2 separate regions of the Homo sapiens genome follow, and region 1 is linked to region 2. Evidence: fine-mapped expression QTL. A gene starts in region 2. The other region holds a variant in brackets. All regions are shown on one strand. Distances are between the middles of the regions.

Region 1 (16,993 bases), 120 kb after region 2:
CTCTTCCAGCCAAGATGGGATAAGATAGACCAGCTTTATCCTCTTCCACTTGAAGCAACAAAATATTCGAAATAATTTTGACACTGCACATCAGGTAATGAAGGACAGTAATCTCTGAGAGATGGAAAACAAATGAGACAAGCCCTACAATTACTCTAGGATATTGCCTTGAGAGAGTTTCCAGGATATAGCACAGGGAGAAACCCAAGCAGAGTTCAGGTGATTCTGTGAGTTGTGAAGAGTCCTAGGGAGTTGAGAGTCCTAGGAGACCGAGGCAGCTAGAGTTTCTAGAATGGTCTACTGAAAATAAGAAAGCCATAGAGGGAAAACTCCAGAGGCCTGCAAAAGGTCCCCTTTGAATACTCAGCTGAGTACAAATCAGCACACATGTATATGAGAAAACTACATGAGACTAGATAAGGTACTGTCCAAAAGGCTTAGAGATTACAGTGGCCAGCAGTCACACAGAGAAGTATTAATATTGTACCTGTTCCCATCAGCCATACTGGAGCATTCAAGATTCACAGACATTTAATAGAGTACACAGAGAAGGGTCTTACCTCAATAATGGAGAATAATTTGCCTTAGACTAAATACTAGTGCTCTAGTCCCATGTAACAAATCTTAAAAGTAAGACCCAAAAACTTCAGATTGTCTCCAGGTTTCTTAACTACATCCCAGAACACAGTTCAGGAATATTTATAGCAATCCATAGTTATGTAGAACCCACCAAGGTAAAATTCACCATGTCTAGCATCCAAAAAAAATTACAGCCATGCAAAGCAGCAAGAAAATAGGACCCACAGTGAGGAGATAAATCAGCCAACAATGACCAACCCTGAACTGACACAGAAACAGGGACATTAAAATAGAGATAATACCAGTTTGGGAAAATTACTTAAGCTAAACTTTTACACAGTTTATATTCTTTCCTTATATGTGTTATGCTTCAATACAGTTTTATTATTTAAAAAAATCAAAACTGTATAAAAAGCTAAGTAGAAATAGGAAGATATTTTAAAATACCCAAATCTATCTTCTAAAGACAGATACTATAATGTGTGATGTGAAGATGCATACTGGATAGGATTAATGCATATTAGATGTTGCAGAAGGAAAGGGAAATTGAAGATACAACAATAGCAGCTATCCAAAATGAAACAGAAAATTTTTTAAATAGAAGAGCATCAGTGATACAAATCTAAGCAACTAAATATAAGCATAATTGGAATCCCCCAAAAGGTGGGGGATTTGAAAAAATGGCCAAAAACTTTCCAATTTAATTAAAGCTTTAAACTCACAAATTCAAAGAAGCCCAACAAACCCCAAACAAAAGAAACATCAAGAAAATTACACCAAGGAACATCAAATCAAACTTCTAAAACTAGTGATAAAATCTTAAAAGCTCCCAGAAATTGTAAAGACACCTTAAAGTACTGAAGGAAAAAGTCACCTAGAATTTTATACCCAGCCAAAATGTCTTTCAAAAATGAAGATGAAATCGATTTTCTTCAGATGTGTAAAAGCTGAAATTCAATATTAGCAAGCTTGTATTATAAGAAATGTTAAGGTGGAAGTGCTTTAGCCAGTTAGAAATATGGCTCTACACAAAGGAATGAAGAATACTAGAAGTGATAACTATACAGCTAAAAAGATTTTCTCTTGTTGTTTAAACTCTTTAAAGATAATTTACCATTGTTTCGGGTTGAATTATGTCAACCTAAAACAGATATGTTGGAGTTCTAACTCTAAAGATGTGACTTTATTTGAAGATAGGAGCTTTACAGAGGTAATCAAATTAAACAGGGGTGATTACAGTGGCCCCTAGTCCAATAAGACTCTGGTATACTTATAAAAAGGAGAAATTTTAACTCAGAAACAAGCACACAGGGAGAACGTCACATGAAGATGAACACAGAGATTGGAGAGATGCATCTATAAACCAAAGACCACCAAAGATTGCCAGCAAACCACTAGAGGCAAGGCAAGAGGCATTGATTAGATTCTCCCTCACAGCCCTCAAAAGGAAGAAATCTTCCCACAATCTTGACCTCAGACTTCTAAGCCTCCAGAACTATGAGAAAATTTATATTGTTTAAGCCACCCAGTTCATGGTACTTTGTTACAACAGCACTAGCAAACTAATACAACAACTTAAGCAAAAATAATGATATAGAGTGGGGTTTTTAATATAGATAAAATGAACATTTATGACAGTAGCATAAAGGGTGACATGAGAGAATCAGAAATATACTTGGCCCTCCATATACTTGGATTCCACATCTGTGGATGCAGTCAACCACAGATCAAAAATATTTGCGGCAGGGCATGGTGGCTTACACCTGTAATATCCCAGCACTTTGGGAGGCCAATGCAGAAGGACTGCTTGAGCCCAGGAGCTTGAGACCAGCCTATGCAACACAGCAAGACCCCATCTCTACAAAAAATAAAAAAGTTAGCCACGCATGGTGCACTTGTAGTCCCAGCTGCTCAGGAGACAGATGGGAGGATCGCTTGAGCCCTGGAGGTTGAGGCTGCAGTGATCCAAGATTGTGCCACTGCACTCCAGCCTGGGCAACAGAGGGAGACCCTGTCTCAATAAATAAAAATAACAATACAACAATAAAAATAATATAGCATAACAACTATTTACATAACATTACATTGCATTACATATTATAAGTAATCTAGAGATGACTTAAAATATATGGGAGGATATGCATAGGGTGTATGCAAATATACCATTTTATATAAAGGACTTGAACGTGGATTTGGGTATGTACAGTGGTTCCTGGAACCAGTCCACTGTGATAATATTAGTACTTTGAGGTTCTTATACATTAAGTGGTGTAATATCACTTGAAGGTAGACTGATAAGTTAAAGCAACTGCTGAAATAAAAGAGTTATACCTAATCAGCCAACAAGGCTAATAAAATCATAAAAAATTTAGTTAATTCAAAAGATGAAGGAAGAGGGGAAGGGAACAACAATCAAGTGAGACAAGTAGAAAATAAATAGCAAGATTATAGATTTAAAACCTAATCACATCAATCAACACATTAAATAGAAATGGCCTAAATGCCCCAATTGAAAGGCAAAGACTGGCAGATTGGGGGAAAAAAGCCAAGACCCAAATATATGTTGCCCATAAGAAATGTACTTCAATTATTAAGACACAAATAGAGTGAAAGCAATAAGATGGAGAAAAGAAAGCTGGCATGGCTACATTAAAATTAGACAAAGTATATTTCAGAGCAAAGAATATGATCAGGGATAAAAATGACATTCCATAATGATTAAAGGGTCAGTTCATCAAGAGTACATAACAATCCTAAACCAAACTTGGTCTATGCACCTAATAACAAAGCTTCCAAATATGTAAACCAAAAACTGATAAACTGTCAAGGAAACATAAACATTGATAAAATTATAGAGATTTCAGCACCCCTCTAAATAATTCCTAGAACAGGTATACTGAACACTTGGCGAAGAATTCACAATGGAAATTAGAACTTTTTTGAAATAAAAATACAAGATATCAAAATGCATAGATGTCACTAAAGTCACAAAAGTAGTACTTAGGGGAAAATTATAGCACTAAACACCTTTATTAGGTAACAGTCTCAAAGCAATGACATCAACTTTTCAACTAGAAGAAAAAAGAAGAGCAGTAAATCCAAAAGGAAATAATGATCAGAGCAGAAATCAAATGAAATAGAAAACTTTCAGAAAAATAGGGAAAATTAATGAAAGCAAAAGCTAGTTCTTTGAGTAGATGAATAAAATTTATAAACTCTAGCCTACTGATCAGAAGTAAAGAGAAAAAGGTAACATCATGACAGATTTTACCAACATTAAAAGTATAAGAAAATATTTTGAACAACTTTATGCCAATAAATTCGACAATTCAAATGGACCAATTCCTTGAAAGACATAACCACCAAAGCTTATTCATGAAGAAACAGATAAGATGAATGGCCCTAAATCTATTGAAGAAATTATGAATTGGCAGTTTAAAACCTTCCCACAAAGAAAATTCCAGGCACTAACGCCTGCATGTTAAAATTTACCAAATATTTACAGAAGAAATAATACCAATTATATATATTCTCTTCCATAAAATTGAAATGGATGGAATACTTCCCAACTCATTCTATGAGGCCATTACTCTGGTATCAAAATCAGACAAATGTTATAAAACAAAACTACAGATCCATATCCCTTATGAATATAGATACAGATGTTCTATACAAAATTTCAGCAAATTGAATCCAACAAGGTATTTTAAAAGGATAATATATAATGGCCAAGTTTGGTTTATCTCAGGAATGCAAGCTTGGTTTAAAATTCAAAAACAATCTATCGTATGAACTCAAAAAGAAAAAGTCATTTGATCATTTCAGTAGGCACAGAAAAGGCATTTGACAAAGCTTTGACAAAATTCAACATCTGGACTTTCCTGATTTAAAAAAAAAAAAAAAACTCAGAATTTAAGGGAATTTCTTGAACCTGATAAAGGGTATCTGAAAAATCTCCAGCTAACATCATCCTTAATGGTGAAAGAAAAATGCTTTTCTCACAAAAACAAGATAAGGATGTTTACTCTTACAGCTTCTATTTAGCATTTGTACTAGAGGTTCTAACAATTCAGTAAAGCAAGAAAAAGCAATAAGCAGCATGCACATTGGAAAGAAGTAAAACTGTATTCACAGGTGTCATCGATCATCTATTTGATTTTTCTGTGTAATCTTCAAAGAAGCTCCTAAAACTAACAAATGAGTTTAGCAAGGTTGCAAGAGACAAGATCAATATACAGAAATTTGTGTGTATATACTAGCAGCAACCAATCAGAAATTTTAACTAAAAACAGTACCATACTCTGGCATCAAAAATATGAAATGTTTATTTTATATGTGAGTATATATGAAATATGTAGCTCATAAATCTGACAAAAGTAGAAAAATCCACATGCTGCAAACCACAAATTAGGAGAAAGTAAAGATGACCTAAGGTGGGTGCAGTGGCTCACACCTGTAACCGCAGCATTTTGGGAGGCCTAGGCAAGTGGATTGTTGGAGTCCAAAAGTTCGAGACCATCCTGGGCAATGTGGCAAAAACCTGTCTCTACAAAAAAAAAAATAGAAAAATTAGCCAGATGTGGTGGCACTCGCCTGTGGTCCCAGCTACTCAGGAGCCTGAGGTGGGAAGATTGCTTGAGCCCAGAGGGTGGAGGTTGCAGTGAGCTAAGATCACACCACTGTACTCCAGCCTAGGTGACAGAGTGAGACCCTGTCTGTATAGAGTCAGTGCAGTCCTCATCAAAACTCTTGTGGGCTTTTTTGTAGAAATTGAAAAACTTACTCTAAAATCTGTGTGGAAATTCAAAGGACCTAGAATAATAGCTCAAAACAACTTTGAAGGACAGTGTTGGAGAGTAACACTACCTGATTTCAAAATTATAAAGCTACAGTATTCAAGACAGCATGGTATTGATGTTCAGGAATATCAGTGAAATATAATAGATGGTTCACAAATAAGCCCAAACTTACGTACGTGATTTTTGCCCAAGATGGAAAGCATAGTCTTTTCCACAATGGTGTTGAAACAAAGGGGTATCCATATACAAAAGAAGAAACTTCAAACCATACCACACTCCATATAAAAAAAAAGACCTTGGCTGGGTGTGGTGGATCATGCCTGTAATCCCAGCACTTTGGGAGGCCAAGGTGGGCGGATCACAAGATCAGCAGTTCGAGACCAGCCTGGCCAATATGGTGAAACCCTGTCTCTACAAAAAATACAAAAATTAGCCAGGCATGGTGGTGCGTGCCTGTAGTCCCAGCTACTCAGGAGAGTCTGAGGCAGGAGAATCACTTGAACCCAGGAGGCGGAGGTTGCGGTGAGCCAAGATCACGCTACTGCACTCCAGTCTGGGCAACAGAGTGAGACTCCATCTCAAAAAAACAAAAAAACAAACAAACAAAAAAAACTCAAAATGTATCATAGACCTAAATGAAAAAGCCATAAACTATAAAACTACTAAAGGAAAACATTTTGAAAAAAAGTCTTTATGACCTTGGGATAGGAAAAGACTTTTTAGACCTGACTTTGAAAGCAACATCTAAGAAAGAACAAATTGATAAATTAGTCTTCATCAAAATTTAAAACTTCAGCTCTTCAAAGGACACTGTTAAAAGAATGAAAAGATAAGCCACATGATACTGAGAAAATATTTTCAAGTCATATATCATAAAGGACTTGCATCAAGAATAAAGAACTCTCAAAACCCAGAAAGAAAATACTTAAAACTTTATTTAAAGCAACCCAATTATTTTTAAATGGGCAAAATATTTGAACAGACACTTTAACATAGAAGATATCTGGATGGCAAATAAGTCCGGGAAAAGATGATAAATGTCACTAACTCATTAGGAAAATGCAGATTAAAACTGAAATACCACTACACATCTATTACAATTACTAAAATGAAATAGACTAGCTATACCAAGAGTTGATAAGGATTTGGAGGAACTGGAACTCTCACATACTCCTGGTGGGAACATGAAACTACATAACCACTTTTGAAATCAGTTGGGAGTTATTTAAAAATTAAACCTACTACACCACCTACTGTATGATCTAGCCACCCAAGATATTTCCCCAAGACAAATTAAAGAATGTTGATTCAAACACATGTATGGGAATACTCACAGCAGCTTGAAATGTAATAACCAAAACTAGAAACAACCCAGATATCCATAAACAGGTGTATATGGATAAACCAACTGTGGTACATCCTTGATACAATGGGATACCATTCTGCAATTTAAAAAGGAATAAACTATTAATACCTGCAAGAAAAATCTCAAAATGATTATTTATATAAAATTCTAGGAAATACAAACTTCAATGGTTGCCTGCTGGCAGGGGAAGAGAAGGAAGGGACTATAAAGGGGAATAAGGAAAATTATGGGGTGTTGGATCTGTTCATTAATTCGACCATGCCAGTGGTTTCATGAGTGTAAAAATACCTCACAACTTATCAGACTTATGCTTTTTGTCACTTATACATCAATAAAGCTGCCTTTAAGAAAAAGGGAAGAAGAAAAGCATCTTTTTTTCAGGTACTAGAACATTGCATATCACTTTTCCTAATAAACAGTCCAGATGACTATGTGGCCGGCTTGTATATACACTAACATGAGTGAGGGATTAAGGTATTAGGTCATATCTTTGTTAATAACTATTGGTATATGATAGAGTTATTTTTGTCTAATTTTAAAATTGCTTATTCTGATTCATTTCCATAGTTTTAAGATTTAGCAAATTATATAATGTTATTCATTCCTCTGTTGTATTGTTTCCCATGGTCATTTGTCTAACTAAATCTAGTTTGTTCCAAACTAGGGATTAACTTTTTAATAGAATAAAAGTAATGTTGAGGGTTACTTTTTAAATGGTTAAAGTTAACAGTTTCAAAGAACTAAAGTTTTGGAATCATTCTGCTTGTACAAATTTTATAATGCCTCTTTCATTATCCTCTTTATTTGATTCATCTTTATTTCATGGTATTTCTTGTTTAGCATTTTTATATTAGTTTGTTTTTGGTAACTGTAAATGTTAAAGTGAATGTAAATAGAAATGTCATTCCTGTAAACTCCTACCCAAATTAAAATTCATGTAAGTCCCAACCCAAAATACACAAATTATTTCCCATTTTAAATTGTTAGGCAAAAAACATATATTTAAATGATGATTAGCAGGTCTTTGGACTTAATTACTTTGAGATTTTTGTAAAAGTTGTGGTTGAATACATCTGTTCAAGTTTAATAATTTAAAAGGAAAAATGTATAATCAATGCTGGAATTACTATGATATGTGAAATGGTTTGCTGAAAAGTCTATGTACTAAAGTGGAAATAATCTTGAAGTTCTTAATATGCCTTGTTTTCTGTTTCTGCAGAGTGTCTATAAATGTGATTTCCTGAACTTACAGCTTCAGCAACCACTCCAGCTTGCACAGGATGCTATAGATGCTTTTTTGAAGCAGCTGAAAAACCCTATTGATTCTCTTCCTGGAGAGCTTTTCCATGTGGTTGTTTTCTCTCTCCTTCTTTCTTATTTTCCATCTCCTTACCAGCGATGGATTTGCTGCAAGAAAGCCCATGAACTGTTAGTGTTAAATGGTTTATTACTAATCATCACACCTGATTCCTCCCATCAGAACCGTCATGCTATGATGATGAAAAGCTGGAAGATTGCTATAGAGTCCCTGGGCTTTAAACGCTTCAAGTACTCAAAATTTTCACATATGCATCTGATGGCATTTAGGAAAATCTCTCTAAAAACCACAAGTGACTTGGTTAGTAGGAACTACCCAGGAATGTTATATATTCCTCAAGATTTCAACAGTATAGAAGATGAGGAATATTCTAACCCTTCCTGCTATGTTCGATCAGATATAGAAGATGAACAACTAGCATATGGTTTCACAGAACTCCCTGATGCGCCATATGACTCAGATTCTGGAGAAAGTCAAGCCAGCTCTATTCCTTTCTATGAGCTAGAAGACCCCATATTACTTTTAAGTTAATATAGAAGCAAAAAGCCCCTTTCAGTCCAGGCTCCTAAACTAATTGCTTACACCAATTGGAAATACTAACATGAACTCAGTACTGAAAACCTGGTTTGCATAAAAGAAATGCAGAGGTTTACAGAGTTTGCTATTTTTTTCTACTTCTCAATTTTAAAATTTATTCTTATATAGAAAGCTTAAAGTTTCATGCAGAGTGACTCATGTCATAGCAGAAACTACTGTTACTTTAGCATTTAGCACTATCATAGAAAGGTACCTTTTTCTCTTTAGTGCTATTGTGAAAACAAGCATAATTTGCTATATGTTTTCCTTTTCAACTTTTCAGTGTTGACTATAAACCATTGAATGGAAAACTTTAAGATGTAGAAAGCTGTAGATTGCACTTTGATGACTCACAAGTTAAATGTGATACAGAAAAATAGATCGGTTAGTTGTTTTGTGATGCACTTATCTTTTTCTTTTTTCTAACTAAAATTGTGATGTTACAGAAAGTCATTTTATGTTCCTTTTTTGTCTGATGATCCAATATTTACTGAACTTTTTGTAATTGGTGATAATTCTTTTTATTTCTTCCTTATATTAAAAGCTCATTTGACAGCATCAGACATTGGGGGAGAGATGTCCCCCAAAGTGTGTATTCTAATTTTATTAGCCCTATCCAATAAACACCATTGCCAAAGTAGTATTTTCATAACTTTCTTGTTGATTTGGGCCTTGGTGTGAAGTATATTTACCTGAGAGTTCACTTTTACTTTTCTTAAACTTAGGCTTCATTTACAAAATGTTTTATTTAAGCAAGGAACAATGTAATACTCAATAATGACCTAAAACACCTTTTTGAAAGGGTTTGCACTTGGAAGAGAGTTTATGTTCTGTTGAAACCAACTTTGATAGGGTCCTCACCTTTCCGTTAAGGAGGTGCCGCACTACAAGTTTCAAATTATATGGAAAAACCTAAAATTAACCCTCTGTTGGTGATCTCATAAAATGGTTTTGACCTTTTGGTATCTTAATTTCTATCTAAACTTTATCAGAAAATTTTCTTTGAATATATCAATTAGTTGGCTGTGGGAATTTTCCCTTTCCACATTAATAAATGCCTTTCTGTGTTTCTGAATCAGAAGCAAATGATTAGGGAAAAATATATGTCCAAACAAGACAAGATTAGTTTAAACAGTTAAGAACATTTAGTCCACATTGTCTTGTCAGCCAGCAATTGTCATGGAAGCTATCATTTTTAAGAGTGCCACTGTGTGGATTTTTTTTTCAAGTGGTTATTACATTAAAATTACCTCATACTGAGGTTTTTGCACTGAAATATCACAGTTTCAGATTTCATGGTTAATGTTGTGCGTATGTTTGTATGTTTTTAAAGGAAACTTGCATTTTCAATAGTTGATCCTAAATTTCATAAACTGCACTTCTTTACTCTGGTAAAGCTGATGTTTTTGTGCTTATTGTGAATTGCCGTAGTACCTTTGAATGTCAAACTTTATTTAGAAATATAAAACTTATCCTTTATGATATAAATGGTTGAGTGTATGTACCCAGTATTTCTAATTAAATTTCACATGCTAAATTAATGAAAGTAACAAGATTGTAATTTTTTAAAGTCAGTTGATTAAATGCAATAAATATTGGTTGCTCAAATATGCCACAAATAACTCGAAATTTTTCATTTACTTTCAACAGCATAAGATTCTTTAATATTTAGGATTGACTGTTCTTTCCAGTTAAGCACTGAAGGATTATGTCTTGTAGCTTCCCCAAGAGAAGGGGAAGGAAAAAAAAGCACTATGTTAAGGATAATACAGAACTCTTTTGAACTATTTTGGTAGTACCTTTTACCATACTGTTTGCTTTTTGATTTGGGTAAATATCTTAAGAGCAAAGAAAACAATACACCAAATGAAAATGCTTTGAAAGTAAATGAAAACAGCGCTTTTGAAAGGCTGGTATAGTATGACCCTGGAGTCAGCCTTTGTGTTACAGCGAAAATGTTGGTGCTATAAATTCTGATTGTTTACAGATGTTGATTCTGCTTATGCTCCAAAGTGTGCATGATGTATTTTACGTAGTACTCTGAGGAAGTCTCTTTATAAAACCTACTACCACTTAGTATAAATTTGTTTGAATTTATATC[A/T]TTTGTTACTGTAAATTCAGCTTATTCCAATTAGGTTGGCACAGATTTAAACTGATACACATTCCACAAAAACCAATTCAGTGTATAAGTATTGAAGTATAAGCAGTCATTGCAGCTTGATGCCAGATCATGTATGTAATAACAAGTGGAAGTTAATAGGGCCTTCTAATACTGTATGGGTACTCCTAAGAATTATTTCATTTTGGATATAAAGAAGTTATGAGGCCTCCTGTCACATTCACAGCTGGTTCTCCAAAATAATTTGGTTGTTTCAAAAACAAATGGTAATCATTTGGTTGGATTCTTCAGTATCATGACTAGATCATGTGGTTTTACCATAGTTGCCAAGTGGTGGGAGGTAGCATACCTGAAAATGTACGTGTGTGTTTGTTGTATTTTTTCACATTTTGTGAACAAAGCACATTTATTAAAAATTTTAAATTTTCTAGTATTCTTTGTCTGTTACTTGTAAACCGAAAGTTCTGTGGTCTTTGATGTATCTCACTAAGTGATTTCAGCATTGGGAAGCAATTTAGAACTTGAGTGACTTGTACAATTTTCCCACTGGGTTTCATTTTTGTTAAATCCCTTAATGTCATAAATTTATTCACTGAGATCCAGAGAACTCAGGTGACTTCCCATTGTCATGTTTTGTCATGTTTATGGCAGAAGCAGGGCAACAGCATAAATTCTACTTTATTGTATGTCAACCATATCATATTCTTTTTTTTTTTTTAAGTAAGCTACATAATTTATCAGCTCTTTCAGGACAGCAGATGTCTTCCTCATGATATGAAAGGTTTTTTGTTGTTGTTGTTTATTAAACAAATGTTTGAATTCTGCCATGTGCTATATGCTGGGAAAGCAGCAAGGATTGGAGTGATCATTGTCCCCTGCTCTCATGGAGCTTATGACCTAAGAGTGAAGACAAGCATGCTACATGTACTTAGTATCTGTATCCAAGAATGATTACCTGCTGATGCTACAGTTTTGCCCCTGCTTAAAATCCTTAATTCACAGAAGTAGAACAGGAAATAAGAAAAGCTTTAAACACAAAACTAGCAAATTACACATTGTGGATAAGAGAGATGTATTGTTCATTCCTCTAGGAAAGTATAACCTAAATATAAATTCTGATGTAAAAGCAGAAAAAAAAATGGATTCAAGCTTTTTGTTCCGTTTTCCCACACTTTCTGAGCACTATGCAGCAATGCTATTCCTCTGCAAGAGTCCACACACTAGGTCAGCAGAAATGTAAATCAAAGATTTGGTTCCTTCTTGGTTTTGTAAATTGCTTGTTAAATGATAACAAAGGTAGAAAACAAATTCTTTGTTACAAAAAAAAAAAAAAAACCCATAATACAAACATTTACTACAAGGAATGTTTGTATTATAATAACTTTATTCTTAAAAAAAACTGAATTGCCATAACCATGATAGTATGATAATTCATGTTAAAGTCATATCCATGAGCTACTGTGAATGCAAAGCTCCCGAAGTATATTAGTGGTGGCCTATATATATACACACTACAAAACCCAGTGAACAAGCAGGCTACAATAGCTAACAATTTAAAGATCTCTAAATGCGTAAAAGGAGATACGCTGGTTTTTCTAAACCCTGTTTTTCTCTTGGCAGAGAAATGGAAATCTCAACAATTGGAAAGCCTTTTAAATGTACCTTAAACTTTGGTTTGTATGCTTTTTTCTAAATTTGTTTCAGAATCTCAGTAGTTTTCTGGGTGGCTCATGCCTGTAATCCCAACAGTTTGGGAGGCCGAGGTGGGTGGATTGCTTGAGGTCAAGAGTTCGAGATCAGCTTAGCCAACATGATGAAACTCCATGTCTACTAAAAATACAAAACGTAGCCAGGCATGGCAGCATGTGACTGTAATCCCAGCTACTCAGGAAGCTGAGGCACAAGAATCGCACGAACCTGGAAGGCGGAGGTTGCAGTGAGCTGAGATCACACCACTGCACTCCAGCCTGGGTGACAGCTAGGTCTCAAAAAAGGAAAATAACCATCTCAGTAGTTTCTAAATTAGTATGCATCTATTTTTTTAAATGAGAATCTTGTTACATATGGCACTATAGAGTATGAACTTTTAGTAATTATGAGTTAAGCAGTTCAACTTATTTTGAATTTTATTTTCAACCATAACACCTTTGCTAAGTTATGAGAAAGCTAGTCTGCTTTTTGTGATAGTATAAAATATTTATTGTCAATGGTTGTTTTTAGTAATCATAAATGATAGCTAAAACTATTTTGCATCATAAATTTTTAAGTTTGGGCCCATCAGTAGTATCAAAGATGGTACTTCTTTCTATGGTTTTTAAGTTAAAGGAAAACTACAAAAAATTAGACCATAGGCATTGACTGCAGAATTGTTTCTTGAATTTGTCATTAATAATTTGAAAGCTGTAAAACAAATCTATTGATGGATTGGAATGCCCATGTAAACCATAAAAATGGCAGGGAGCATTACCCCAAAAAAAGGAAACAGTATTTTCTAGATCCAGCCCTGTTTGCAACTCTTTAGGAAGAAAATGCGAGAAAATATACTTGCATCCTTTTATTGCATATATCCAAGTAAACTATTCGTAGTGTCCTGATGACAGTATTTCTTCTGTAGCCCTTTGAACTGGTGTGGGAAATCAGCTACTGAGAAGAATATGATTTGTGGTCACAGATACTCTATGTGAAGCTATAATAGAATCCACATTTAAGTTGTTTACATTTACATTCATCCCTAGCCCTACAAATCCTTTTTACAGTTAGCTAATGCCACTCTAGCTATGCCTGTTGTCTTCTACAAGGAAAAAGAATACGAACATGACCATGGCCAATATTAATTTCCTTCTCCCTTAAACTCCTGTTCTATAATGCATCTCTGGATAATAGAGTTTGCATTGACAGGCTAAAACATGAAAGAATAATGAAGTCAGGAAAAAATGGTTTCCAAATTGCCACACATATTTTCAATAGAAATCCAAGCAATAACATGTTTCCTAAAGCTAGGCATGGATGAAACATTCCTTGGAAATAAATGGGTGATTACTGGAAGAAGGAAAAATCTTTGAGACTGTCTGCAAGAAGAAAGATGCTTAAGACAGAAAGAGGGCCTAACAGCTTAACTAACTGTATAATGAGCTTTATATTCTCTGGCTCCACTGAATCATTACCACGGATTAAAGTACTGGAGTACAGTGTGTTGGAAGTAGAACAGGGACTTGGGAATTTGGAAGTAAGAAGACATATTTTGATAGGAAAGTGGAATGGTCTGGAGCTTGTGACCAGAAAAGGTGAGGGCAGGTGGGGGGAGGGGAGGGCAGTGGGGAAGACCCTGTGGGCCTAGGGAATGGTGCCAGTTGGAATGAAGAGATACAGAATGGGAGTCAGGATGTCACAAACCATCCCTTTAGTCTTACGGTTAAATGAACTGCTAACATCAATTCTATAACTGAGAAAGTTCCAACAAATTATTTATAATAAAATGAACAGGCTGGGTGTGGTAGCTCACACCTGTAATCCCAGCACTTTGAGATGCCAAGGTAGGCGGATCGCTTGAGCCCAGGAGCTCAAGACCAGCCTGGCAATATAGTGAGACATCATCTGTACACAAAAATTTTAAAAATCAGCCAGGCGCAGTGGCATGCACTTGTAGTCCTCGCTACTCGGGAGGCTGAGGCACAAAGATCATCTGAGCCTGGGAGGCGGAGGTTGCAGTGAGCCAAGATTAGACCAACGGACTCCAGCCTGGGCAACAGACTAAGAGCTTGTCTGAGAAAAAAAGAAAGACAAACATTTTCCTCCCTAAAATTTATCAAATTTTAACATCACGCTATAGAAGATAGTATTATAAGTAAATATAGGTTAATAGTAATACTTCTGTGAGATACTGTGTAATACATTTTCCCACAGAATGTGAAGCATAAAATTCAAAAGAAAGCAAGCACAGCTCTTGTGACAAACCACTTTATATAGAGTATTACCTAAGACATTATGTACTTGGAGTTGTCTTGAGTAAATGAATTTTCACTGATCTAGTAGGCCTTGTGGTTCCCTTTTTATTTATTATTTTCTTTTTATTATTATTATTATTATACCTTAAGTTTTAGGGTACATGTGCACAACGTGCAGGTTTGTTACATATATATACATGTGCCATGTTGGTGTGCTGCATGCATTAACTCGTCATTTAACATTAGGTATATCTACTAATGCTATCCCTTCTGATGGGATGTATCTCAAAATAATAAGAGCTATTTATGACAAACCCACAGCCAATATCATACTGAATGGGCAAAAACTGGAAGCATTCCCTTTGAAAACTGGCACAAGACACGGATACCCTCTCTCACCACTCCTATTCAACATAGTGTTGGAAGTTCTGACCGGGGCAATCAGGCAGGAGAAAGAAAGGGTATTCACTTAGGAAAAGAGGAAGTCAAATTGTCCCTGTTTGCAGATGACATGATTGTATATCTAGAAAACCCCATTGTCTCAGCCCAAAATCTCCTTAAGCTGATAAACAACTTCAGCAAAGTCTCAGGATACAAAATCAATGTGCAAAATCACAAGCATTCTTATACACCAATAACAGACAAACAGCCAAATCATGAGTGAACTCCCATTCACAATTGCTTCAAAGAGAATAAAATACCTAGGAATCCAACTTACAAGGGATGTGAAGGACCTCTTCAAGGAGAGCTACAAACCACTGCTCAATGAAATAAAAGATACAAACAAATGGAAGAACATTCCATGCTCATGGGTAGGAAGAATCAATATTGTGAAAATGGCCATACTGCCCAAGGTAATTTATAGATTTGATGCCATCCCCGTCAAGCTACCAATGACTTTCTTCACAGAATTGGAAAAAGCTACTTTAAAGTTCATATGGAACCAAAAAAGAGCCCACATTGCCAAGTCAATCCTAAGCCAAAAGAACAAGGCTGGAGGCATCATGCTACCTGACTTCAAACTATACTACAAGGCTACAGTAACCAAAACAGCATGGTACTGGTACAAAAACAGAGATATAGACTAATGGAACAGAACAGAGCCCTCAGAAATAATGCCACATATCTACAACTATCTGATCTTTGACAAACCTGACAAAGACAAGAAATGGGGAAAGGATTCCCTATTTAATAAATGGTGCTGGGAAAACTGGCTAGCCATATGTGGAAAGCTGAAACTGGATCCCTTCCTTACACCTTATACAAAAATTAATTCAAGATGGATTAAAGATTTAAATGTTAGACCTAAAACCATAAAAACTCTAGAAGAAAACCTAGGCAATACCATTTAGGACATAGGCAAGGACTTCATGTCTAAAATACCAAAAGCAATGGCAACAAAAGCCAAAATTGACAAATGGGATCTAATTAAACTAAAGAGCTTCTGCACAGCAAAAGAAACTACCATCAGAGTGAACAGACTACCTACAGAATGGGAGAAAATTTTTGCAATATACTCATCTGACAAAGGGATAATATCCAGAATCTACAAAGAACTCAAACAAATTTACAAGAAAAAAACAACCCCATCAAAAAGTGGGCGAAGGATATGAACAGACACTTCTCAAAAGAAGACATTTATGCAGCCAAAAGACACATGAGAAAATGCTCATCATCACTGGCCATCAGAGAAATGCAAATCAAAACCACAATGAGATACCATCTCATACCAGTTAGAATGGTGATCATTAAAAAGTCAGGAAACAACAGGTGCTGGAGAGGATGTGGAGAAATAGGAACAATTTTACACCGTTGGTGGGACTGTAAACTAGTTCAACCATTGTGGAAGACAGTGTGGCGATTCCTCAGGGATCTAGAACTAGAAATACCATTTGACCCAGCCATCCCATTACTGGGTATATACCCAAAGGATTATAAAACATGCTGCTATAAAGACACATGCACACGTATGTTTATTGCGGCACTATTCACAATAGCAAAGACTTGGAACCAACCCAAATGTCCAACAATGATAGACTGGATTAAGAAAATGTGGCACATATACACCATGGAATGCTATGCAGCCATAAAAAATGATGAGTTCATGTCCTTTGTAGGGACATGGATGAAGCTGGAAACCATCATTCTCAGCAAACTATTGAAAGGACAAAAAACCAAACACCACATATTCTCACTCATAGGTGGGAATTGAACAATGAGAACACATGGACACATGGACACAGGAAGGGGAACATCACACACTGTGGTTCCCTTTTCATAACTGTGAGGACT
Region 2 (16,993 bases):
GAAAATTGACTTATTATAACCATATTGAGACTTCTGACTCATGGCTCAATATATTTTTATTAAATAAAAGAAGAATTTTTGAAACGGGTTTTGGAATAATTTTCAGAAGTTCTAGGAAAATTAGAAATATCATGTTTAACTGCTGAAAGAAATCATAGATGACACAAACAAATGAAAACACATCTCATGCTTGGGGTGGGGGGAGGAAATCAATATTGTTAAAATTACCATACTGCCCAAAGCAATCTACAGATTCAATGCAATTCCTATGAAAATACCATCATCATTCTTCACAGAACTAGAAAAAAAATCCTAAAATTCATATGGAACCTGCATAGCCAAAGCAATACAAAGCAAAAAGAACAAATCTGGAGGCATCACATCACCCAACTTCGAACTATACTACAAGGTTATTGTTACCAAAACAGCATGGTACTTGTATAAAAATAGGCACATAGACCAATGGAACAGAATAGAGAACTCAGAAATAAAGCCAAATACTTATAGCCAACTGATCTTTGACACAGCAAACAAAAACATAAAATGGAGAAAGGACACCCTATTCAACAAATGGTGCTGGGATAATTGGCAAGCCACATGTAGGATGATGAAACTGGATCCTCATCTCTTACCTTATACAAAAGCCAACTCAAGATGAATCAACGACTTAAATCTAAGGGCTGAAACCATAAAAATTCTAGAAGACAACATCAGAAAAGCCCTTCTAGACATTGGCTTAGGCAAAGAATTCGTGACCAGGAACCCAAAGCAAATGCAACAAAAACAAAAATAGGTAAATGGGACATAATTAAACCAAAAAGCTTCTGTACAGCAAAAGAAAGAATCAGCAGAGTAAACACATAACCCACAGACTAGGAGAAAATATTCACAAAGCATGAATCTGAGAGAGGACTAATATCCAGAATCTATAAGGAACTCAAACAAATCAGCAAGAAAAGAAATAAATAATCCCATCAAAACGTGGGCAAAGAACATGAATAAATAATTCTCAAAAAAGATATATAAACAGTCAACAAATATATGAAAACATGCTCAACATCACTAATTATCAGGTAAATGCAAATTAAAATTGCAATGAGATACCCCCTTACTTCTGCAAGAATGGCCATAATATGAAAAAGACACTTGCACATGCATGTTTATAGCAGCAAAATTCATAATTGCAAAAATATGGAGCCAACATACCTGCCCATCAATCAATGAGTGGATAAAGAAAATGTGGTATATATACACCATCGAATGTGGTATATATGCACTCAGTCATAAAAAGAAATGAGATAATGTATGTTGCACCAACTTGGATGGAGCTGGAGGCCATTATTCTACATGAAGTAACCCTCAGGAATGAAAAACCAAATAATGTATGTTCTCACTTATAAGTAGGAGCTAAGCTGTGAGAATGCAAAGGCTTAAGAATGATATCATGGGCTTTGGAGACTTGTGGGGAAGGATGGGAGGGGGGTGAGAGATAAAAGACTACACATTGGGTACAGTGTACACTGCTCAGGTGACAGGTGCACCAAAATCTCAGAAATCACCACTAAAGAGTTTATCACTGTAACCAAAAACCACCTGTTCACCAAAAGCTATTGAAATTTTAAAAAGAGATAAAATAAAAATGCATAGTTTAAAAATGTAGATAGTATTCATATGGTTCAAAACTCCAAAATTATAGAAGAATACAGAGCATCCCTCCCACTCTTGCCTCCCAGGAACCCAATTCTCATCCTCCATGATCTGCACATTAAAAGTTTCCCCATTCATTTTTATGGCCCTGGATGTAGGGCCATAAAATGGCTTGTAAGGATGTTCCATAATTTATTTAATCAGTGTCTTAGTGAGGGACATTTAGATTATTTCCAATTCTTTGCCACTACAAAAATTCCACAATAAATAACCTTGTACAATCATAATTTCCTACATGTATGTACATAGCTGAAGAATAAATTCTTTAAAATGAGATTGACACCTCAAAGGGTATAGATATTTATACTTTTGATAGTTACTGCCAAATTGCCATCCAAAGGCAATAGAAAATGTATATTCTCAATTTTTAGATCTTTGTAAATCTCATAGATGAAAAATGTCATCAGAGCACAGTTTTTTATTTCTTTTACTATGAATGAGGTGAGTATATTTTGATATATTTAAGAACAATTTATATTTCTTTGTATGAACTACTTAAATGTTCTTACTTTAGTTTCTTCATTTGTACCTCAGTTTCCTCATAGGGTTGTTGTAAAGATAAAATAATTCGTATGCAGAAATATCAAGAACAGTGCCTAGAACATAATAAGCACCATGTAAGCGGTTACTCTTATTGCCATCATCATCATTTGTTCATATCCTTTATCCATTTTTCTACCGGGTTGTTGATCTGTCCTCCTGTTTTTGTAGAAATTACTGAAGTGTAAGAAGGGTGGCCACATATCACACATCTCAGTTTGTCTGAGAAAGTCCCAATGTATGCCTGTTGTCTTAGCATAATAATTAATAAGGCCCCTGCACACTTTCAAATGGTAGTGATTTGAATGATATGGTCACTTTCAAATGGTAGTGATTTGAATTACATGGTGAAGTAAATTAAAACTGCATTTGGAATCTCCAAAAAAAAGACAAATACATAGAAACAGAGAGTAGAATGGTGGTTACTAGAGGTGGGGATTGGGAACACACAAAGGGGATGGGGAGATGGAGGTAAAAGGGTGCAAAGCTGTAGTTGTATGTAGGATGAATAAGTCTAGAGAGTAAGACTAAAGATCCAATGTATAGCATGAGGACTATAGTTAATAGTATTGCACTGCATGCTGGAAATTTGCTGAGAGAATAGATTTCAGGTGCTTTTAACACACAACGAGGGAAAGGTAACTATGTGAGAAGATGTGTATATTAACTTGCTTGACTGCAGTAACCATTCCACTGTGTATATCAAAACATCATGTGGTCAGGAACAATGACTCATGCCTGTAATCCCATTGCTTTAGGAAAGGCAAGGCAGGGAGGATCCCTTGAGACCAGAAGTTCAAGACCAGCCTGGGCAACACAGCAAGACCCCCATCTCTAAAAAAGAAAAAAAAACTTAATTAGCCAGGCATGGTGACATGCACCTGTGGTCCTAGCTACTCAGGAGGCTGAAGGGGGATGATCACTTGAGCCCAGGAGTTTGAGGTTACAGTGAACTATGATTGCGCTGCTACACTCCAGCCTGGACAACACAGCAAGGCCCTATCTCTAAAAAGAAAAATTTTTTAAAAATAATTAAATATATATAATTTTTAAAAAAGAAATATGTTTATTAAAATATGGTAGTAAATTTTGATCTGGCTTTTCATAAAACATTTATTCTAATTATCTTACAAAAACTTTGGGGGAGAGATAACAGTCAACTTTAGGAATTATATGGAATTATATGGTGATTACTTCATACTTGGACATATAAAACCTTGTAATTTCAGAGCTAATATGGGAATATGTTCTACCTTCAGGAAAAGAAAAAAATGGGAAGTCAGTGACAAACTATTAAAATCTAAAAAGAGACTGATGTACATTTAATAAAAGAAGTGTAAATTTAGCTTCCTGCATTTAGAAAAATTTCACTTTTTCTGGCCCCTTAGAAACAATTTACATGTATACCATTTATTCACATTTGTACTTTCTTAACTTTTTGAAACACTTTCAGTCCGTAATTTCTTTTTATTCACACAACTTTGTGAGGTAGGAATGGTAAGTCGTCATTATCTGACAGCTAGGAAACCAAGGAACCTAGCAGATAGCAGATCACTTCAAGTCACAGAGAAAGCTAGCAAACACTGCTTCTCGATCACCTAATTCTCTTCCAGAATGTCTCAGCACTAGCCACCTCTGTGCAATAAAAAAATACAACTCACTTCAGCGAGTTCAAATAGAAAAGGCATCCCAGATCTCCAGAAGGATCAGAGAGGCAGACTTGGAGACTACGCAGCCCAGATCCCCACATAAGTCGACCCAGCAACTACTCTGGGAAAGACCCATTGCCCCTATTATTTGGCTTATAAAGCAAATGTTAGACACTGGAAGGTAGACCCTTGGGCTTGGTGATCCTAAAAGAACTACACCTCCACTCTCCCTCAACAGGCCAAAAGATTCCCTATGGCTTCTATTTCGTCATTTTGCTCTCTTCCAAATAGACACTTCATTCAGAGACTATGGTTAGCAGAGTCTAGGTCACTTCTCTGAGCCCGCATTCAGAATGTAAGAAATCTCCCAAGGTAAAAATGATGTTTGAAAGGAATGAGTAGACTCAACATGGTAAGGTACATCTCATAAAGCTTTCTCAAAATCAATGTGAGTCATAGAATTACTGTGGTTTGGGGACTGAAAGGGATCTTTCCAATTGCCAGTATTTTATAAATTTTAGGCTGTGATTCATTAGAGGGCCATAAAATCAACGTAGTACACCCTATAGTTTTAAAAAACTAAAAATAGAATGGAAAATACCACCATGCACTGCATTAGTGAAGATAAGTATTGCTTGGTGAAACTTTTGTCCTCATTATATATGTGGGTATAAATTTATATATATATATTTATAATATATATATATGTAGAGTACATATATATATATACATGTAGCGTATATGTCTAAGTGTCCTGTGCCATCAGGTAATATGTATTTCTTACTAGAGTCACAGTAAAAAAAAAATTGAAAAACACTAGTCAAATCCAATCTCTTCATTTTACATTTGACAGAGGATAAATAAGGCTCAGAGAACCTTGCTCTGTTGGTTAATGCAAGGCTGGAATTAGGACACAGAAAATTTTAGTCCTACATTTCATTGTAAGGACATTATCACTTAGAAGAAGTGTACTTCTTTTTTATGTAGATCTATTCCTACATTAGCCCTGTTATGATTATCAGATATATTTCATTAATTAGTATATCACAAAATAGTATGTTTTATAATTGTATTTTGAGGTAAGCATTAATTAATGATTGTCACTTGGTTAACACCAGTCTATTAACTTTTGAAAGATAACAAATCTATGTGTTATTTTGAATACTTTTAATGTTCGCAGTTAAATTATGAATTGCAGGGAAGTCATTGAAATAGTAGTTAAAGACATAAATTTTTAAAGAAAATAACCCTTTTAATTTTTAATCAATAGAAGGATTTTTAAGTTGTAATCTGCCATATTGAATAGAAATATATCACTAAAAATATTTTTCTTGTTAGTTCTCCACTGTTTGTCTCTATCAAAACATTAAATACGGAATTTTCCAAAGAAAGTTTCTATGATTTGAAATAAAATATGAAAAACAAAAGGCTTAACAATTTCTCTATAATGTGCTCAACTAAAGATACATCTACTTTTTAAAATTCTGAATACAAAAAATCATTTAAACTTCATGGATATTTTTATATTCATGGGTAAGAATTTTGGAAACAGTGGTAAATATTTTCAAAATGACATAGATTTTACTTTTCCAGTCCTCATTTTAATTGAATTCCTAAAGATTCTATTTCTAAATAGTCATGAACCAAAGATTTGTCCAGCTTGGAATACAGCTGTATCTTCAATAATAAAGCTGATCAAGTCTTTTTGCACAATTGACATACACTGTTGTTTTAACATTTTTATGTTTTAGAAACAGAAGTTTAATATTAATACTTTTATTATGCAACATTAAAGTCTAATTGCTTTTATGATTTTTATAATAAAGAGGGCCAAAGCAAAGTAGATAATACCAAGTCACTGAAGAATAAAAATAAATAATGCCTTAGATTATTCAAAGAAGCCCAATTTCTTTTTTTTCTTTCTTTCTTTTTTTTGTTTGAGACAGGGTCCCACTCTGTCACCCAGGCTGGAGTACAGCGGCACAATCATGGCTCACTGCAGCCTCGACCTTCTGGTCTCAAGTGATCCTCCCACCTCAGCCTCCCAAAGTGCCTGGATTACAAGTGTGAGCCACCAAATTTGGCCAAGAACCCCAACTTCTATTATGTAGTCTTCTCTCTTCTACAGCAACACTCAAGAGGGTCAGAATGAAATGTACAACACTTTTACAAAGCACACCCAGAATCTACGGGTTACCTCAGTGCCTCATCCCAGATTTTGATATGGATTTTTAAGTTGACTTTTCATCACCCATTAATTTTTTCAAACTCACACTGGGAATAGAACATATTTTATTACTGCAATATGTTGACTCTTTACACCCTTTGTAGGAATTTGTGTTACTTATAAAGAATATAACTGTAAACAAAGATGACAAGGTATTTTTCTCACCAAAAACATTTTTTCTGTACTGAGTGGTTCTTGAACAAAGGAAGCTTACTTGACCTACCTAATGTGTAAGGAATTAGGTACAGAAGCTGGTTAGGTAAGGCAAAGAATGAGGATGAGAAATTTACTTATCAGGGGTTTAGAGCGGTCATTAGAAAAGCCTCTACTTCCCAGACTGGTTTGTCCTGCTCAGTGAAGAGTGTTTTATTCCAACATCCTCTTTCCCTAACAGGCATTTAAAATAATGAGAGAATTTTTTAAAACAAGATATTTACAGTAAATAAAAACCTGTCACCACAAAGTGGGGAAAGTTGCTGACATTTTCCTGGGCATAGGATATGCTCATTGAATATGGCACCAAGCCTGCTTCCTTCAGTGAATCCATTTTATCAGCAATTAGGACTGTTGTTTCACTTAAATGGAGAATTCCATTATGACTCCTCAGCAACCTTAACAGATAGAAAGCTTTTTGTAATATTGCTAACTACACAGGAGGAAAGTAGTTATAAACTCCCTTTTGTGCTGTGGTGGATAGTCAGTGGAAAAAAAATCACCTTAAAATATTTCTCAGGACATGTTGGCCTATACCTCATTTGAATTCACGCATCTTTAAAATAAAATCTGTGCCTGGCGCCGTGGCTCACGCCTGTAATCCCAGCACTTTGGGAGGCCAAGGTGGGTGGATCACCTGAGGTCGGGAGTTTGAGACTGGCCTGACCAATATGGAGAAACCCCGTCTCTACTATAAATACAGAATTAGCCGGGCATGGTGGCGCATGCCTGTAATCCCACCTACTCGGGAGGCTGAGGCAGGAGAATCGTTTGAACCTAGGAGGCGGAGGTTGCAGTGAGCCGAGAATGCGCCACTGCACTCCAGCCTGGGCAACAAGAGTGAAACTCCATCTCAAAATAAAATAAAATAAAATAAAATAAAATAAAATAAAATAAATCTTATTTTTATTTTTAAAATAAAATCTTTATTTTATAATAAAAAATTTAAAATTTTTTAAATGAAAATTTTAAATAAAACATTTTTTAAATAAAAAATTTAAAGAAAATAAAAAGATTTCATTTTCTTTAAAATAAAATCTGGCTGTCCAATTGTTATTTCTTCGGTTGCTTTTCAAGAAAGTGTGAAGTCAAAAAGTAATTTTAAAAGGTAGGACTCTTCAATCTGCTTGAACAACAACAACTAGATAGTCTTAAATAAGTTCCTTTTATTTATTCTTACGTTGGTATTTTAAGTTAAATATTATACCAATAAGAATAGCTAGTTACGAAACAGCAGGAAATTCCACATATTTATTTAAAAAATAGACATGTTTTTAAAATCTCATTAATGACTTTGTAAATTGTAATACCTACCTTTGGTAAGGGTGCAATGAAATAAACACCCATAGGTACTAGTGGACATGGCATAAACTGCTACTATCTTTCAGAAAAGGCAATTTCATAATATACATCAAAACCCTAACATGTTTGACCCTTTGCTTCAGAAATTGAACTTTTAGGAATTTAGCCTGATGGAATGTATAATTAAAGAAATGGACAAATACTTGTGTGCAAATGTGTTTGTCATGACATTATCTGTAATACAAAAAAGCTGGAAAAAACATAAATCTACAATAACTGGGAATTGGTTAATGAAATAGTAGGCTATTCATACAATAGATTGCCACATAGGCATCAAGAAATATCCTATTTGAAATTAGTATATACAAACAAAGAAAAAATGTTAAGTTGTTATCTCTCAGTCCAGATGTCTTATTTTCTTTACTCTTTTCTGTATTTTCCAAATTTCCTTCAGTGAACATCTTCAGTTAAGAGGCCTTAAAAGTTCATTTGCTAGTATTATGCTGAAAAGTTCTTTTTTAAAAAATAAAACTACAGTTCAGCACAAGTGAAATTTAATGCTCTTTTTACTATCATTGTATCTTTCGAATATCTGCACCATTATTTGCCTTCCATATGTATTAAAATATGGAAAGAGCCAAAAGAGACATGTAATTCAAGCTCCCCTTTCTTCCCAAATGAAATTCCCCCAAATAAGACCACCATATTTTCAATTTATTAGGCACTTCCGCTTAACTTCTCTTCATAATTATAAGGAGTTCTTTTGAAGTTTATATGTCCTTGTCTTTGTGTTTGATCTGTCTCTTCACTGTGCTGTAGGGACACATCTTCCGCCTTTAAATTCCATCAATCTCCCTTCACCTCCCGCTTCTCCTGTGTCCTAGACAGTGTGTATAATTCTTTGCTCTTCAGCGTATTCAATATAAAGAAGGTAGCATATAAAACAGTTACATAATGCAAGCTTTATTCGTAGTTAGAAAATCATTATCAAAATGTTACCATTGCAATCATTTCCATAGACTGTCACGTAACCAACACCTGCAATGGGGAAGTGGTACACAATCCAACACAACTCATTAGGGGCTCTCAGTCTATTCAATCTCTGACACTCCAGCAGCCTCAGTACCACTTCAGGAGCCAATGCAGTCTACCTCTCTCCAGAGAGCAGTGTTCCACCTTTCTGGGACAGAAGTCAACAATCGCGTTCCCCAAGAGATGGAAAAGAAGTGGAGGAGGGTGAACAGGTTACCAAACCCACTTAGATACACTCCGCATAGACTAACTCTCCAAATTAAAGGACAGGAGGTCACCTGAGCTGACCATAAAAGCTCAGAGTGCTGATGCGAATAAGATCAGGGAAGGCTGCTTATTAACACCGTGGTCACTACAAAAGTTCTTGAGGGCATCTGCTGTGAGTTTTCCATCGTTCCTTATTGTCCTCCTGCATCTCCTGTTGCTTTTCTTGGCCCTCTCCTTTTCGCATTTTCTATGTCCTTTGCCCAGCAGTAGTACTGCAGGCATAAACCATTGTCGACCTGAGAATTAAATTAGCATTTGGTAGCCAGACCTCTCCTTGAGCCTTAGAATGCTTGTGTGCTTGAGGTCCCTGAAGTGTAACGTCATCTCAAAGCGCAAGTAACTAAAGGGAACCTACATGTGACAAGGTGCAGCGGAGGTTCAAGCAGAGCACCCTGGCCGCATCGCAACAGATTATAAAGTGTAGGGGATGAAAATGATGGAAGACATCAGAAAGCCGAGCTGTAAAAAAGCCCAAACTAAGCAAACTGAGACGCGCAAGCGCGTTGCTCACAGCTCGTCTCCCGAGGCCGAGCCACAGCGCCTGCGCACAGAATCCGGGGAGGGTGGGGAAGAGATGAGCACCCAGGCCTGGAGCTCCCACTGCCTCAGCCTCCCTATCCCCGCAAGCTCCGCCTCCTCCAGCTGCTCGCCTTCCCAAACAACCGGGTTCGCCGCCGGCGCTTTCTGCCCATTGGCCCTTAGCCTTTTCCGTTTCCGCCCAGCCCTCAAAATCCACCAATCAGTTTGCACTTTTGGGTGAGGGTCCACCTCCAAGGCTGTCGCTCCGGTTCCTCTGCCTCCTCTGGCTGCTGCCTCCGCAGCTCCCTCCTCCTACCCCACCTCCTCCATCTGGGGAGCGTCTGCGGGGGCCTGAGGGGCGGCGGCGGCGGCGGCGGCTGCGATATGGAGCCAGGGGCCGGCGGCCGAAATACTGCTCGTGCGCAGAGGGCCGGGTCCCCGAACACTCCGCCGCCCCGGGAGCAGGAGCGGAAACTGGAGCAGGAGAAGCTCTCCGGTGTGGTGAAGAGCGTCCACCGGCGGCTCCGCAAGAAGTACCGAGAAGGTAAACAGCGCGCTGAGTGAGGGAGGAAGGGGAGGCCTCATCACCCCCAACCGCTTGTCACCTCTTCCCTCCTCCAAAGAGGCCACCATTAAAATGTAAAGGATCTGCACGTCCCCCCAGCCGCTGCTGCTCTCCCGGGCCTGGTCTGAGCCCCCTAGTCGGCATCAGACGCGCTCCTCCCCGCCCCCTTTTCTTTGAGGGCCCTTCGGGAGAGTTCTAGGCCTGTAAAGGAATTGAGTCCCCACCCCCTCCAAGCCCCTGTCCCCAGCCGGGGTGCTGAGGTTGTTGTCTCGGCACACACAAACACATACACGCTCACAGAGGAGGTGGGGGTCGCTTTTTGCAAGAGACGCCGAGGTAAAACAAGACAGGTAAAATCCATTTGTAAAAGACGAAAAGAAACCTGAGTTGTCCCTCCTTTACGCTTGACCTACCGGCTGTACCATTTGCTTCCTTATCAGACCCCCTTCCTAGTACTTCATTCCTACAACCATGCCGAGCCTTCCTCGCATTGGCTTCCAGGGCTGGGAAGCCAGCAGGCCTTTTAGCTGACTGGACTTCACATTGTTAAAAGGGGGCGGGCTACACTCGTGGCCCCCACTCCCATTTCTTAAATACTTGGTCTTAACTGTTTATTTAGGCGATGAGGAAGAGATCTGGGCAGGTTCTGAAAATACCGTTTGTATTGGAAGCCTCCTAAAGACACCTGCCGATAAAGCCCACCCTCGGCTTCCATGGATGGGGTTCCGGTGAGAACCCCCTCTGTGGAAGCTCATAGGGGAAGAAGCCTTAGTGGCTTTTGCCTGTGCCTGAAGAGTGTTTATAGTTGGAGTCTACAGTTATCCTTGATATCTTTAAATATAGGCTTTTGTACACAGCTGTTTTATAAGATTTTGACAGTGAAAATTCTGTTTTCATAGGCTTGGGAGAGAGACTTCTCCTGAGTATCGAAATGAGGAAAGCTTTCCACTGGTTCTCATTTTAGCTTAATTGCAAACTGAAAAGTCAGCAGCCTTCTGGTGTTAGTCCTATACTTAGTTAATAATTTAGGATTAGAAGGAAAATTATGGCAGTGAAGGAATACAGACAGGTAAGATCATGTTACTGTTGATTTATACACACGTTTCAACTACTCTAGAAAGTTAAAACTAAGTATCCTTTGTTCTTTTGAATGTAGTTGATATGTTTCATTTTTCAAACTTTAAAGGTTTCTTTCCTTAGCAAATCAAGCTTAGCTTTTAATAGAGGCTGTTTAATCATCCCCAAATGGGGCTTGTAGTTATTGTTTAACAGATAGCAATAGAAAGAGTCTTATCAGACCTACTTAGGATGGTAAAATATGTTTTTTGAAAGAATGCTACCCAAACCCACAATTTAGTCAATAAAATGAGTAGTTACCATAGCAACAACTGCATCATTCTTGATATTCAAAGAATGCTCTTACATAATGGAATTCACTGTAGATTTTATGTTATTTGGAGAGATTAGGAAATAAATGGACACATTTTCCTGCAATTTATCCTGCTATTTTGTACAAATTTAAGTGCATCTTTCTAAAGAGAAAAATGACTAGCATAGAATTCCATTTCTATTTTTACCTTTTAATAATTTCATTATTCATTTATTCATAAATGAATAGGTTCCACTCAAATTAACACACTAATGTGGCATCTCTTCAAGTGCTGTTTATATGTGCTTAGTTCCCACATGTTTAACCATGTTTTAAGCCTGAGTATTAACCACAGGAACTCTTGTTTATGAGAATCGGAAGTTACCAGATCTAGAATAGATACATGGAGTTCATAAGTGAATGATCTAGTATGCTTCTGGGGAGTTAAAGTCCTGGCAGTTTAAACATTTGAATGAGACTATTCTTTAGGCGCTTTAATACCCTGAATTTCACCGGTGATCTAGACTTCTCTAGGCTTTGCTTGAATGATATACAAAGCCCCATCAGTGAATTAGCAGAATAAGTGATCCTAATGAGCATGCTCCTTCTACCTTTATTTCTGACATATAGGCTAAATATTAGTAGTAAAAAAGTCATCTGTGAAAAACTCTGTGCACATAATAATACTAAGGAAATAATTTTTAGTGTTTTACTTTGAGGACTTAGTATTGTGCTGATGGTCCCCAGTCTGTAAACATATTTTACAAGTTCATTTGCAAGTCAGCTGTTATTGTAATCTGAAGATTGCTTAAGTGCTAGATCAGTCTGCAAAGGCCCATTGAATCAATAACATACCTGAACTATAGCACCAATAACTATGGAAACTGTACCCCTTTTATCACAATTCTTCTACCAGCAAATGCAGTGAAAATTCCAGCTTAGGATCTTGGAGTTTTAGACTAGAAGGAACCTCTTAGCATTTAGCAGTGATTCCCAAACATGGCTGATCAGCAGATTCAACTGGGTGCCTCTTAGACAATTCCTGTATTCTACCTCAGATCTATAGTTTAAGATCCCTATTATTAGGAACTGGAAATTGTCAGCCAGATATTAGAGTGGTGATCTAATAGCTTCTTCATTTTACAGATAAGTGAGCGGAGTCCTAAAAATATTAAAATAACTTTCTTGATGCTTTGGTAGTTCATTATTAATACTATACATATTTTATGGGAATAATATAGGTTCCCCACCCCCAACTCCAAACCTAATATTAGTGACTCCAAATGTTAGAATAGGAGGGAAAATGAGAAGCAGGAAGTGGCCCTAGAATTTCCATTAGGTGAAAAGTTATAAATTGATGGGAATGGATGATCCATAGGATAGGTATGATTAGCTGAGTTGGGGCTATACAAGGTGAGGGTTTTTTGGGGAGAGATGGCAGGGAAGGAAATAAGTTAGGGTAGAATAAGGAGGCAAAACAGCCATTGAATATTAAGGACAGGATAGATAGTGACTGGGAGGTTGGAGAACAGAGCCTTCTTTTCCCTTATCTCTATTAGTGGAATTGAAAATAAAACAGGAAAAACAATGAAAATAAGTTGTGTTGTTCTTTTTTGCTGTGATAAGAAAAGATTTTTTTCCACTCTTCTCCAACCATTTGCCCAACTGATGCTAGTTGATGGTGATGAACAGGCTTGGGGTGGGGAAGGGTGAACAGGGTTGTAAAGAGTAGCAGGTAGGCTTAATGCACTCTTTTCGTTTACCACTTTTTCCTTCCCCAGTTTATGGCCTGCCTTGTTTCACCACTTAAGAGATGCTGTGCCAATTTGTCTAAAGGTAAAGTGAGAACTGGAGATAAAGGTGTGTTCCAGGCAGCACTCGTATCTGAAGCAGTTACTAAAAAGAAATGGTAGGGAGATGCCTAGCAGTGGTGATGCGAAGGGGTATTTCTGGTGTCTGCCATTGATAGTTAAGAGACAGTCTTTTAAAGTGAGGTTATATTCATAAGATATTCATAAGATAGGTTTTTCACTATCTAGTGAATAGATCCATATTTATAAATGGAAATATGCTTGCACATATAGGTGTTTTCTGTCTTTGCATACATAATTTTTAAAATTTGACCTCCATGTAAACCAAAAATATTTTAAATGTATAAGAGTTATAGACAGCTTTTTAATTAAAAAAACTAGTTTCGCTTTTCAAACAGGGACTTCATTATTTAATTAGATGAGCCTGACAAATATGTATCAAATCAAGAACTGAAGTAGAGCCATGTGTGTTTTTGGTTGTCTTTGTATGATTTTTTTTTTCCATAATCGTATTCACATGAACCCATTCCTGTAATGATTGCTTTTATGCCTGGCATTTCTCTTTCTAAACTTAAAGCGTTTATGTAAAAATTCCAAGAAAATGTAAAAGGCTGCAGTTGTCAGGAGTAAAAGTACACTTTTCATTCCATTTCGTTTTTATTTTTTTAACCTATCTTATGAATATCTTTGGGACATTTTATCAAATTATTCAATCCCTGAATTTACTTGTTCTGCATACCAAACAGATTTAAAACAGTTTATCACATAAACACCTGCAGCTTATAAATCAATCACAAAAAAAAGTAAAAGTATGTACTAAACTGTTAAAAGAGGTATTCTTAAAGTCATGGAATTAGGGGGTGATCTTAACAGGTGAATTAGCATGGCAGTGTAGGATAAGCTGAAAAATATATTTGTGATTGACTATTCTTCAGCAAACACTTAAAATGAGAATTGTGGGGGAAGGGGAAAAACTTTTGTATTAAAATAATTTTAAACCAAAAAGGCTAAAAATAAGAGAATGAATGTGATGTTGGTGTTTTTCCAGAAACAAAGTTTTGAAGTTGTTTTAAAAATTAGAATGAGACTCCTTTTAATTGAACTTTTCTTATTTTTTTTCCTCAGTGGGCTTTAAACACAGCTGCTTTAAAATTTTGACCAAGTCCAAGACCTTAAGAAACTTTGAACAGATTCTTTTCTCAAGTGAGGTTTTGCTGTTTTCTTTTTGTGTTCTTCTTATACTTATTCTGATATAGAATCAGAAAGCTTTTTGTGATAGAATATTTGCCTGATCATTGAAATAAATAAGGTGAAGGTTGTCACAGAAGGTCCTGTTAAGTTTGCACTAGGAGAGTTTGAACTGCCATTCCCAACAGAAGAAAAATAATGAAAAGAGTTCAGTAATCAGTAATAGTAAAAGATAAAGGGACCATTTATATAGTCAGTTCAATGAAGGGCATGTAGGTATACAATGTACATTAGTGTTTAGCTATTTGATTTTGTTATTATTAGTGTTCTTTGTGACAAGGTATCGTTTTAGGGGCTTTTTGCAGTTGAAAAGATACACTAGAAACCAAAAGCATTGTTGCAGATTCCTTGATTGTTTAATGGAAAATAAACCCACTAACATAGCGGTTCTTAGCCTTGGTTCCACATCAGTATAATCTTTGGAACTTTGTGGAACACAGACATCTGTATATATAAAAGCTCCCAGAGTACACAGTGGACAAAGAGGTTCAGAAACACAGCTATTGTAGTAGGAGGAATCTAGGAGAAAGGAGGCTTTTATACTAACCTGATCTAAAGTTAATAATAGCTTAAATAACAGTAGTGATGATGAAAATAGAAGAAGACAGACTTTGAAGATCAGAATAGGCAGTTTCAGTGAAAATAAAGAAGGGTCAAAGATGATGCCAATATTTCTTTCCCGGGAAAATGTAGATAGCTATTAGCATACACTTTGGAAATGGTAGGAGTTGGAGGCAAGAGGAACAGGGTAGTCAGGCAGATTGGCTTGTTATAGGGATAATGGTAATGATTTAGTTTGCAATCTATCCTTTGGAAGTTTAGGATTTGGAAGCCCTCTGTGGAGGCTGAATCTTTGAGGCAAGTAAACTGCACAGTGGGGTTGTAATATAGAACTGAGGACAGATCCTTGGAACACACCAGTAGTTAGAGTTTGGAAGAAGAAAAGTGGAACCATCACAGAACACAGGGAGTACTCCCAGGGATCGGGTGTCTGCTGTGCTGGGTACCAACACAGTAGTAGAACTGTATCTGCCGCCATTTATGCTTCATTTACAGTAGAGTGAAGGTGTTCATAGTGACAGCCTAAAGTCCTCAAGAAAACGTAAAATTATGTTTACTATAATATTTCTTAAGAAAATATTGATTTGCTTTGATTTTCAAAGAGTCCCAGTCTTTCAAAATCAAACAAATCAGTATTTTCAGTTGGTTTTGGTGCATTTGTTTTCTTTAATAAGTATATATCATGTTTGCAGCTTTAAAGCGTCTAAGGCCATGGTTCTTAAAACGTTAGTTGGCTCCAGAATCTTCCAGTGAACTTTTTAAAATGCTGATTCTTAGGTCCCCAGAAAGCAATTTGGTGGATCTGAGATTTGGGGCCCAGGAATCTGCATATTTAATGTCCCTCATGTGATTCTAATTCAGGTGATCATTGGAACACTTTTTGAGAAAACATTGAACTAAGATTTTTCTGTTGCAAAGAAAAGCAGGGTACTTTACTAAAGGATGTGCTCGTCCTGGGAGTTCAAATTGTTTTTCACATTCATTCCTTCCTCATATGTGCCTATGAAATATTTATTTCTGTCATAAAAATACAGTATACAGAGTGAAACATCAGTTGAGATAACTGAATGAGTTAATGATTTTTCAATAATAGGTAGTCTCGCTGCACCACTGTGTAAGGAGCTACTTGTTTTTAAGGCACACTTTAAGAAGTTGTCTTTAAATTTCTTCATTGATAGTTTTGACACATTTTTATATTAGTTTTCTATCTTTTGGTAGCCATTTCTATAGTGTCTAAATAAGTCAGGCACATTTGTCACATAGTTCCTATTATAATCATATCTTCTTCAGTATTTTTGTTAATTTCCTAGAGCAATCTCATACATTGTTCACATTTGACGATTAAGTGGAGACTTTGCTGTTTTATCATACAGTACTTTTGGAGCTCCTGTTTTTACTAGTCCTTGCTAATTAGCAAAAGCAGCAGGATCCCTACCCTCCTTAAGTAACAAAAATAATAGAGATGTTAACCGTAGCTATTCTGTCTTTATGTCTTCAGGGTAGCATTAAGGATTGGATGGCTCCTGGGCATTATCCCTGCCCCTCTTCCTTCCCCCACCAATTCAAGTAAAATTTTCTAAAATGTTCCTCTTTAAATCAGAAGTACTGTTGTACTGGAAGTTTAGCAGCATAATGTTTTTAACAACTTTAAATCTAGATTATTAAGGATTATGGTTTAGAGTCCGATCTTCAGGCCTCTTTTGAAATGACCTCTTCGTGGTTGGTCTTTTAGGCCAGTTTATTGTAATGTAAACTCTTGAAACAAAGATCTGGGTTTTTATTAATCATCACAAACCCCATCCCCACAAACACAGTTGTGTACAGCACCTAGCACAGAATCCTACATAAGTAAGTGCCCCTACCTAAGTGCCCCTCTTACCTTGTGCTTCCATAGCATGATTGTGCCTACCTTTATGGTATTTATAACTTACCAGTTCATTTGTCTGTTTTATCTACTAAACTTAGTTTCTTGAGTAAAACTCT

What was found.
Region 1: its variant is fine-mapped to the expression of SAMTOR in whole blood (TOPMed, PIP 0.91).

What each region holds. Positions count from the first base shown.
Region 1 is chr7:112,813,344-112,830,336 of GRCh38, reverse strand. SAMTOR (S-adenosylmethionine sensor upstream of mTORC1) reads left to right here. Exons shown (of 5, transcript NM_152556.3): 5 at 7,964-11,190. The coding sequence ends at 8,593. Among named protein-coding and RNA genes, the nearest start is that of TMEM168, 31 kb to the right of the region's middle. The variant A/T (reference allele first, on the strand shown) is at 10,740.
Region 2 is chr7:112,932,598-112,949,590 of GRCh38, reverse strand. It overlaps SAMTOR (S-adenosylmethionine sensor upstream of mTORC1), which reads left to right and starts at 9,716. Exons shown (of 5, transcript NM_152556.3): 1 at 9,716-10,000. The coding sequence starts at 9,841. RefSeq lists enhancers at 9,248-9,587, 9,242-9,758 and a silencer at 9,788-9,887.